Linked DNA regions of Homo sapiens: all the other regions are linked to region 3. Evidence: fine-mapped expression QTL. A gene starts in region 3. Each other region holds a variant in brackets. All regions are shown on one strand. Distances are between the middles of the regions. Region 1 overlaps SNHG14 (small nucleolar RNA host gene 14). Region 2 overlaps SNHG14 (small nucleolar RNA host gene 14). Region 3 holds the start of SNRPN (small nuclear ribonucleoprotein polypeptide N).

The links. PIP is the estimated chance that this variant, and not a neighbour inherited with it, causes the effect.
Region 1: its variant is fine-mapped to the expression of SNRPN in monocytes (Fairfax 2014, PIP 0.95). The same link has a PIP of 0.9 or more in monocytes after LPS and monocytes after interferon gamma.
Region 2: its variant is fine-mapped to the expression of SNRPN in whole blood (TOPMed, PIP above 0.99).

The regions. Positions count from the first base shown.
Region 1 is chr15:24,909,354-24,912,121 of GRCh38, forward strand. The region is part of intron 3 of SNHG14 (small nucleolar RNA host gene 14); the gene reads left to right. It also overlaps a transcript of SNRPN not described here, the pseudogene RPL5P1 and the pseudogene RPS27P2. Among named protein-coding and RNA genes, the nearest start is that of SNRPN, 44 kb to the right of the region's middle. The variant T/C (reference allele first, on the strand shown) is at 1,340.
Region 2 is chr15:24,988,846-24,991,613 of GRCh38, forward strand. The region is part of intron 15 of SNHG14 (small nucleolar RNA host gene 14); the gene reads left to right. Among named protein-coding and RNA genes, the nearest start is that of SNORD108, 3.3 kb to the left of the region's middle. The variant C/G (reference allele first, on the strand shown) is at 1,334.
Region 3 is chr15:24,953,661-24,956,428 of GRCh38, forward strand. SNRPN (small nuclear ribonucleoprotein polypeptide N) reads left to right here and starts at 1,327. Exons shown (of 10, transcript NM_003097.6): 1 at 1,327-1,402. It overlaps SNURF (SNRPN upstream open reading frame), which reads left to right and starts at 1,327. Exons shown (of 3, transcript NM_001394334.1): 1 at 1,327-1,402. The coding sequence starts at 1,389. All of the region lies in intron 4 of SNHG14 (small nucleolar RNA host gene 14), which reads left to right. RefSeq lists enhancers at 1,742-2,307, 2,308-2,768, 2,698-2,768.

The sequences.
Region 1 (2,768 bases), 44 kb before region 3:
TGCCAGTGGTAGTTCTGGCAAGGCCTGCATCCAAATAGCAGGTAAAGGCACTTGGCTGACCATCAATGCTTTCCACAATGTATTCATCGCCAGTCACCTCCACTTGGCCTTCATAGATCTTGTCCATGCCAAACCTACTGAGAAGCCTGCGGGCCAGCGGCAGGCCAGTACAATATGCTGCAGCATAATTTGTCGGGCCAACCTTCACACCATATTTTGGCAGTTCGTGTGCATATGCTGTGCAGACTATCATATCCCCCTCTATATGGGCATAAGCAATCTGACAAATGATATCTCTGTTTGTTACACGAACTATCATCCTGTATTTGAGTGTGTTGTATTTATTTTTATCCTGTATCACCAAGCGTTTCCGAGTATCGTAATCAGTTTTACCCTCTCATCATCGTCTTCTAAATTTCACTTGGTATCTCTTAAAGTAGGCCTTATTCTTAACAACTTTAACAAACCCCATCCTGCAGAACAGAGACCCGCGTCCACAGCTCAACAGAGACCAGCAGGCACAGCGGCGCTGGGGCAGGGAGAAGGGGAAAGCTTTTTAATCTTCAGTGGGTACCTGGAACAAGGTATCTGTGTAAAATGCTTTTATTATTCAACCAGACTTTAGGCTAAGAAAGCCCATTTTAATGGGTTTATTTTAATATTCCAGCCCTCATGCTCAGTCACCTGTTTCTCCAGTTCTTTAATGTTTAACTTATACATTCATTAGAATTATAATAGAGGGTCAGTGGAAACTGACTGTTCTGGTTGCTAATGGGAGCCTGCCCTGCCACAAACTTGGTGGAAGTATTTCTGTGTCTTAATAGTTTTTTGGAGGGTAGAATGTAAGAGCGATGAACTAGGACATTTGGCAGAAGAAATCTCTAAGCCAAGTTTTCAGGGTACTGCATAGCTTCTCTTAACTGCTTATAGTAAACTGTGAGAAGAGAAAAGATAGGACTTCTAATCAAAAGGGAAGCAGATTAGCTGGGCATGGTGGCACACACCTGTAGTCCCAGCTACTCTGCAGGCTGAGGTAGGAGGGTTGCTTCAGCACAGGAGGTCGAGGCGGCAGTGAGCTATGATCGTACCACAGTCTGGGCAACAGAGTGAGATCCCATCTCAAAAAAAAATGCTAATTATTATTATTATTATCATTGAGATGGAGTCTTGCTCTGTCGCCCAGGCAGGAGTGCAATGGTGCGATCTCGGCTCACTGCAACCTCTGCCTCCTCCCGGGTTCAAGTGATTCTCCTGACTCAGCCTCCTGAGCAGCTGGGATTACAGGCGCCCGCCACCACACCCGGCTAATTTTTGTATTTTTAGTAGAGATGGGGTTTCA[T/C]CATATTGGCCAGGCTGGTCTCGAACTCCTGACTTCGTGTTCCACCCACCTCAGCCTCCCAAAGTGCTGGAACTACAGGCGTGAGGCACCTCACCTGGCCAAAGACTATTATTATCATTATTTTATCCAAAATGTGTTTATTGAGATGGTTTCCCACTCATCTTGATTCAGGGTGCTTTTAGTGCTGCTTTCTCCTGAAGGACCATCCTTCCATAAGCCTTGCTTTTCCTCCTGTAGGCTGGCAGAGGAAAGTGCAGCAGCCAACACCCAAAACCACTGTTGGCACATGGCTAAAGACCGTGGTGATTTTATAGCATCCTGGGCATTTCACATCCATGAAGTAGGAATTGGGGCTCTGCACCAGGTGTTTCTTCTTGTGTTTCCTCTTCTCCTCTTCTGGAGAGGGATGAAGGAGATCCTTTGCAAGAAGCATGTTCTTGTGGGTAGGTCGTCAGTGCTGGAAAGGGCCAAAGAAAATTATTTTTAAAGGGAAGTTGAACATAAAGATTTGGAAAATTAACAGCCTGGCCTTGTAAAGAATTTTTTAAATAAGTTCAGGAGACAAAACCAACTGTGTGGCCAACTGACCGTTTCATAAGGAGATTAGTATGACTAGAATGCCAGATGCTATTCATTAAGACAATGGGAGAATGACCCTGAAGACATTTCAGAGAGCACTGAGAATGCCACAACCATCACAGGCCCAAAGTGCCAGGTCCTTGAGGGAATAACAATTTTAAGGAAGGAGCCCAGGATTCCAGTGCAACCCAAGATGCCTGTGGGAACTTGGGGCTCACTGACTATGCTGCCTCATGTATCTGCTCCCTGAAGTCAAGCAAAGCTTCCCCATCTGTGGTTCAGGTGGGCCCAGGTACAGCTCAGATCACTCCTCCAGAAAACACAAGTAGTAAAACATGGGGCAGCATGCATGTGGTGCTAACTGCAGGCATGCTAAATCCACAGCTGTGAAGGCATGGCTTTCTCCACCTAATTTCCAAGGAAGCCTTGAAGAATGCCTCAGGGCCCAATCAGAGAACTGCTGTAGGGGCAGGGCTGCCATAGAAAGTTCCCACTAGGGCAATGTCCAGCAGAACTATTGGGTTGGGGCCACCACAGAGTGCCCTCACTAGGGCAATACTCAGTGGAGCCATAGGGACAGGGCCACCCCTGAGTTCCTAGACCCAGACCTGTAGATCCGGTAGTGCGTATTCCAACCTGTAATAGACATAGACACCTGACTACAACCTGTAGAACTGTGGCATGGGCTGACTCCAGCAGTCATGGCAGCAGGGTCCCCTGGGGGCTTGGGAACCTAAGCACTACCCCAGTGTCTCTGTAAGGTGAGAGGTAGAATCAAAAAAGCTGACTCTCACACCTCAAGATTGAATTTTGTTGGCCTTGTTGGGTTTTGAAGTTATGTGGGACATGT
Region 2 (2,768 bases), 35 kb after region 3:
TTTAAGTCACAATGATGATACCTTCTTTAAAAGCTTTGACTTACTGAAATAATGCTTTTCATTTGTCCAAGATGAGTACATAGCAGAATTTGGAAATATGGTTCCAAAAGGCTAAATAGACTGACTTTTTTGATATTTTTCCCTTATAGGGAGAAAGAAACATTAACGGTTTATCAGATGCCTTGACTGTACTTTTTACTGCTTTGTCTTCAAGGCCTAGTGTAATAATTAACATCTAGTATGTGTTTGATGGATAGCCAATTTTTGCTTCATTGGTATGTTGTTACCACAGTCATTGGTAGAGTCAATATATGAATGAAGAAAGTATAACAAATTTGCCCTCTAGTAGAGTACAGGCAAAGTATGGCCGTCAGTTTCACCCTGATTTTTTTTCCTCCATTCTTTTTTAGGGTTTAGGTCAAGAACAAGGGCATTTCATTGTACCACATAGCTGAGAGTAGGGAATTGGGACATACTGTCTTGCTTTAAATTAAAGTTGTCTGTTTCATCAAGTAGAGAGGTTCCTAAGATATTGCCAGATTTCTGACTCGGGGTTTGTTAAAAATAGAAAAGGTAGTTCCTTAAGGTTGTATTTTATTGGATGCCTCCACCTGCTTCAGGCTAGCTCACTGGAGAATAAATATTCCAGGTTAAAAAAAAAAAAGCATGTGTTCACGTGAACTTGTCCTTTGAGCAAACCTGTTGGAAATCAAGAGGTCATTGCTGTTGGAGAGGATAAGAGGGTGTACTTGTTGGTGTGTTAAGAGTAGTTCACAACATAAAAATAAATGTAAATGCATCTATTATATTTGGGTTGGCAAAATATATTGGTTATTTACTCTGTTGATTCCTGTAGTGTACATAAATATGATCTACAACTCTGTGAACAAAAAGGCTTGAAAAATTGTTCTGAAAATGGACAAATCATGAACAGATAATTGAACAAGAAAATAAGCAGAAAGTAAATTTGTGAAATATTTCAAACTCATTTACATTCAGAAACATCTTTTTAAGATCACTGTGATACATTCGACTGTCAATTCTGAAGAGACGTATAAAGGAAATGCCAGCTAAGGAGCAAGGAAACAGCTTTCATTCATGGGCTAAATTGCAGCTTAAAAAAGATGGACCAGGATTATTTCCTTTAGAAACTTACTGTACAAAAGATACTGTTCACCCCATTAGAGAACTGATTTGAAGTTACTCTTCCCTGTGAGGGCTCTGTCATCTTAACTGTATTCACATACTTTCAACTGTTCCCCTTGCTGCTAACCTCAGGTTCTTTAGTTCATCTATCTGGCAGAGCTGATTTGGGGAAAACAAGACAAACCTT[C/G]TCAGGTTTTCTTAATAAATAAGCAGTTGTCATGTTTCAAGAGTTTTAGAAATGAGCAATAATCAAGGAAGAGGACAACGATTGCATACGTTTATAATATTTAGAACATCTTTTGCCACAATAAACACTGGAAACCACCCACTTGTGGACACCAAACATTTGGATTTGTATATTTTGTGGCATTCCCTCACTCTAATCCTCTCATCCTTAAAAATTTTCAGAAATTTTTGCAGCAACAAACACTGATTGCAACATATGATTTAGGGTAGATTTATGAACCATTTTTTCACTGAAATACATCAACAGGAGTGAGTAGTCTGAGTGACCACCCCAGCATGGAGAAAACTGTAGTTTACAGATTCTTCTGGAGCATTTTTATTTCTAGATTGCGGTGGAAGTCTAACCCCCCTTGGAGATGTCTGCCTTAAAGGGTCTTTGGCCAGGGTCCTCTGTAGAGCCATAGTCCAGATCTACTCTATTTGTGTGCTCCTTACAACATCAGAACAGCAACTCTCAATCCGGATTCATCCCCAGAATGCCGTCTGAGTCACAGCGTGGCAGGTGCATAAAGAATTATCTACTGAATTGAGAAACATTTCAAATATATAAAACTTGAAATATTTTGGGTAGTCTGTACAAACTCAAGTTGACAAGCCAACCCTGCAGGAATATATGGATAGAAGGGGAAGGATAACATGTTGAATTCAGCTACATGCCTCATCAGCTAGAAAACCTTGGAAGAAAGAAAGATAGATTGATACTTGCCTGAACTTCATCAACCAATAATATTTTTTTTCTTGCTATGGAGAGTCCACTCGCCTTTGGAAGATTTACCAGTAAAAGCCCTGCACATGATATACTTGTGTGCACATGCAATAAGGACATCATTCCCCAACTCCTGCTAGCATTGTGAAAGAGCTCCAAATATTCAAATAATATAAACTTTTTTTCGTGGACATTTAGCTTACGAGTTTGTTTAAATATGTGGGAAAATTATGTTTAGATAATAGTATTGAAATGAGAATGTAAGATACACATTGAATGATAAATGTGTATGAATTGTTCATTGTGCCTTAGGTAAGCCAGACAGTGAAATTAAATGTGTAATAGTTGTATTTTTTTGCATAATCTTGGAATGTAATTAGTTAAAAGCAAACACTTAGATTTTGAACATGAATCTGTTAAGCTTGTTAATGTAGTTGCTGTGGCTAAATAACTGGTTTCCTGGGGAAGCTTCTATTTGCTAGAATTTTATTCTGGAACAGTTGTTAGAAAGGAATTCTCAGGTCACCTTTTAAAGATATACACAATTCTGTATTCACTTTTTGAGTGCATAAGGGTAATAGAAAATGACATGGGAAGCGTTAATTAGAAAAAAAGGCATTTTGTTTATGTGCATTTGAGGATACAGTGTTTGAAGTTTCTAAATAATTGT
Region 3 (2,768 bases):
CTTCCCATGTTATTTTATGTGAATATGTATCAATGAACTATTAGAAATTGCAATGTTTTTGTAGGTCAAAACAATTCAATATTGACAATTTTATATGATTCAGCCTAATACATCATTTTTTCCATCAGCCATATTGCATGTTATTATTTATATATACGTTTATTTAGTTAGCCTATCTGTTCTCTGTGAGGAACATTACACAGTTTCTGAGATTTTGTTACGATAGAAGTCAGCATTGATAAGCCTCTGCGCACCTGTTTTAATGTAGGATCATTGGGAACTGAGCAGTAGCTTACAGGGCTTGGGAGGGGATTTAACCATTTAGTCAACCTCCACTCACATCACCCTCCCTTCTTCGATAATGGGCAATTGAGAAAGGGCAAATGTGTGTAAAAACTATGCAGATGCAGTTTCAGGATTATTTTCTTCTTTTCTGCAGTGTCTTTTCCCAAGCTACATCAGCGTCTAAATTTTGGAGTTACTGATGCTTCCGTTATTTCTGCAGATAGAATATTATGTCGTAAATAATGTTTACTTGTCCATTAGTATTATATAAAAGTGCCTGTTTCTCCCCACTCCAGCTATCATTGATTATTGGTAAAAATTTTAATGTATCCAATTCTAATAGGCAAAGAAAGGCTCTCCTACTTAGATCTTAGGTGGGGGTCTAAGTTCATATTTTTGTTTTACAAAAATTGAATAGCCAGTGTTTTTGAGTTGAATGATCTATCCATTCCGTATAGGAGAGTTTAATTATATTGTGATTTTGGGGGAGATAATTTTCACAATTTACCCCCTCAAAATGTAGAAAGTAGAAAAAGGGTAGAAAAATCGCACCAAATTTGAACAATGTAGCATGCTTTTAGAGTTAGGGATATTTTCTTTTGGAAGGATTTCAAGTCTGGCGTATTTGCATTGATTGTGGTTATGGCGCATTTAACTTTTCCAAACCAGCTTTTTTGTACCGCACATAGGAAGACCTGAGGGTGAGTGTAAATTAGGATTGTTTGGCCAGTGGTGTGTGCAAAAATTTATTGTAGAACCAAGAATTATTTCTTTAGTATTTTACACATTTTAAAAAACAGGTAGACATGTCCATTGATCCCAGGTTGCTTATGGTTTCTAGAGGCCCCCTCTCATTGCAACAGTGCTGTGGGGCCCTAGGGGTCCAGTAGCCCCCTCCCCCCAGGTCATTCCGGTGAGGGAGGGAGCTGGGACCCCTGCACTGCGGCAAACAAGCACGCCTGCGCGGCCGCAGAGGCAGGCTGGCGCGCATGCTCAGGCGGGGATGTGTGCGAAGCCTGCCGCTGCTGCAGCGAGTCTGGCGCAGAGTGGAGCGGCCGCCGGAGATGCCTGACGCATCTGTCTGAGGAGCGGTCAGTGACGCGATGGAGCGGGCAAGGTCAGCTGTGCCGGTGGCTTCTCTCAAGAGACAGCCTGGGGAGCGGCCACTTTTATTCATCAGATATTCCAAGTTTTTAGGACTTGGAGTACTGAATAAACGGAATTTGGGCCCTAAAGTCCTTTGTTCTGGAGAACCAGATCCGGAATGTTCAGAGGCTTGCTGTTGTGCCGTTCTGCCCCGATGGTATCCTGTCCGCTCGCATTGGGGCGCGTCCCCCATCCGCCCCCAACTGTGGTGTCGCGACAGGTCCTATTGCGGGTGTCTGCGGTGGGAAGGGCGGTGGTGACTGGGAGCATGCGGGGTAACCGCAGTGGGCAAGGGACATGGGTGGAGGTGGGTACATCAGGGTGATTGCAGTTCCGTGTGGCGAGGGTACGTGGGGGGACCAGTGCATAGGGATTTTAGGCGGAGGTAGGTATATTGGAGTGATTGTGGCGGGGCGAAGGTACGTGAAGTGATCGGTATTTAGGGGGTGTTGAGCGCAGGTAGGTGTATAATAGTGACCACTGCGTGGTGGAGCAGGGTACGTGGGGCGACTGGGGGGGGAATTCGTCGCAGTGACCGAGGCGAGGAGGCTATGGCAGTGGACCAGGGGGATGAGTCGGTGTGACAGTGGTGGGGGTTGTGTTGGTGGTCGCGGCGCGGGGAGAGTCCGTAGGAAGTGGCTGGGAGGTAGGGGGAAGGCGGCGACAGTGGGTATTGGCGGCGGTGGGCATTGGCAGCGGGTAGGCATGGCGGTGGTGGACTTTGGCGGCGGTAGGCATGGCGGCGGTGGGCATGGCATGGAGGCGGTGGGCATGGCGGCCGCGGGGCCTGTCGCTGTCCGGAGTGACTAAGGGACGCTGAATGATTGCTGTGTAGAGGAGGGGGCATCAGAAGGGGCAGTAGCACAGTCCGCAGCCTTTAATTTTCCTGTGACCTGCGATGGTCATCTGGTTTGCCTACTGTGGTGGTGGTGCTTTTTTATTAAAACTGCGCAATGCCTACACTGCCGCAGGGGCTGCAGAAATGCGTGGAATCCTTGCGTACCCTTTAGGAACCCTCGCTTTAGAGGCTATGGCATAAGAAGACTGGAATGATGTGCAGAACTTGCATTTACAGATCTTTTGACTGATAGGCCAGGTGATGCCTGGGGGTTACTTTTTTTTCATTGTTTCTCTCTGTTGGGAACCAGGTCTTGGAAGGCTATGTCGAAATAACCTGGGGGTCTGTGTTGCGTCACTGCCATTGTGCAGCTCCTTCAAGATGGCCGCCGCTGCAGCGGCTTAGATCTGCGCAAGCGCTTCAGCGGGGGGGTGGCCGCTTCCTCCCTGTAGAGCCGCCAGTGGGGAGGGGGCAGGTGGTGTGTGTTCAGCTTCTGCTG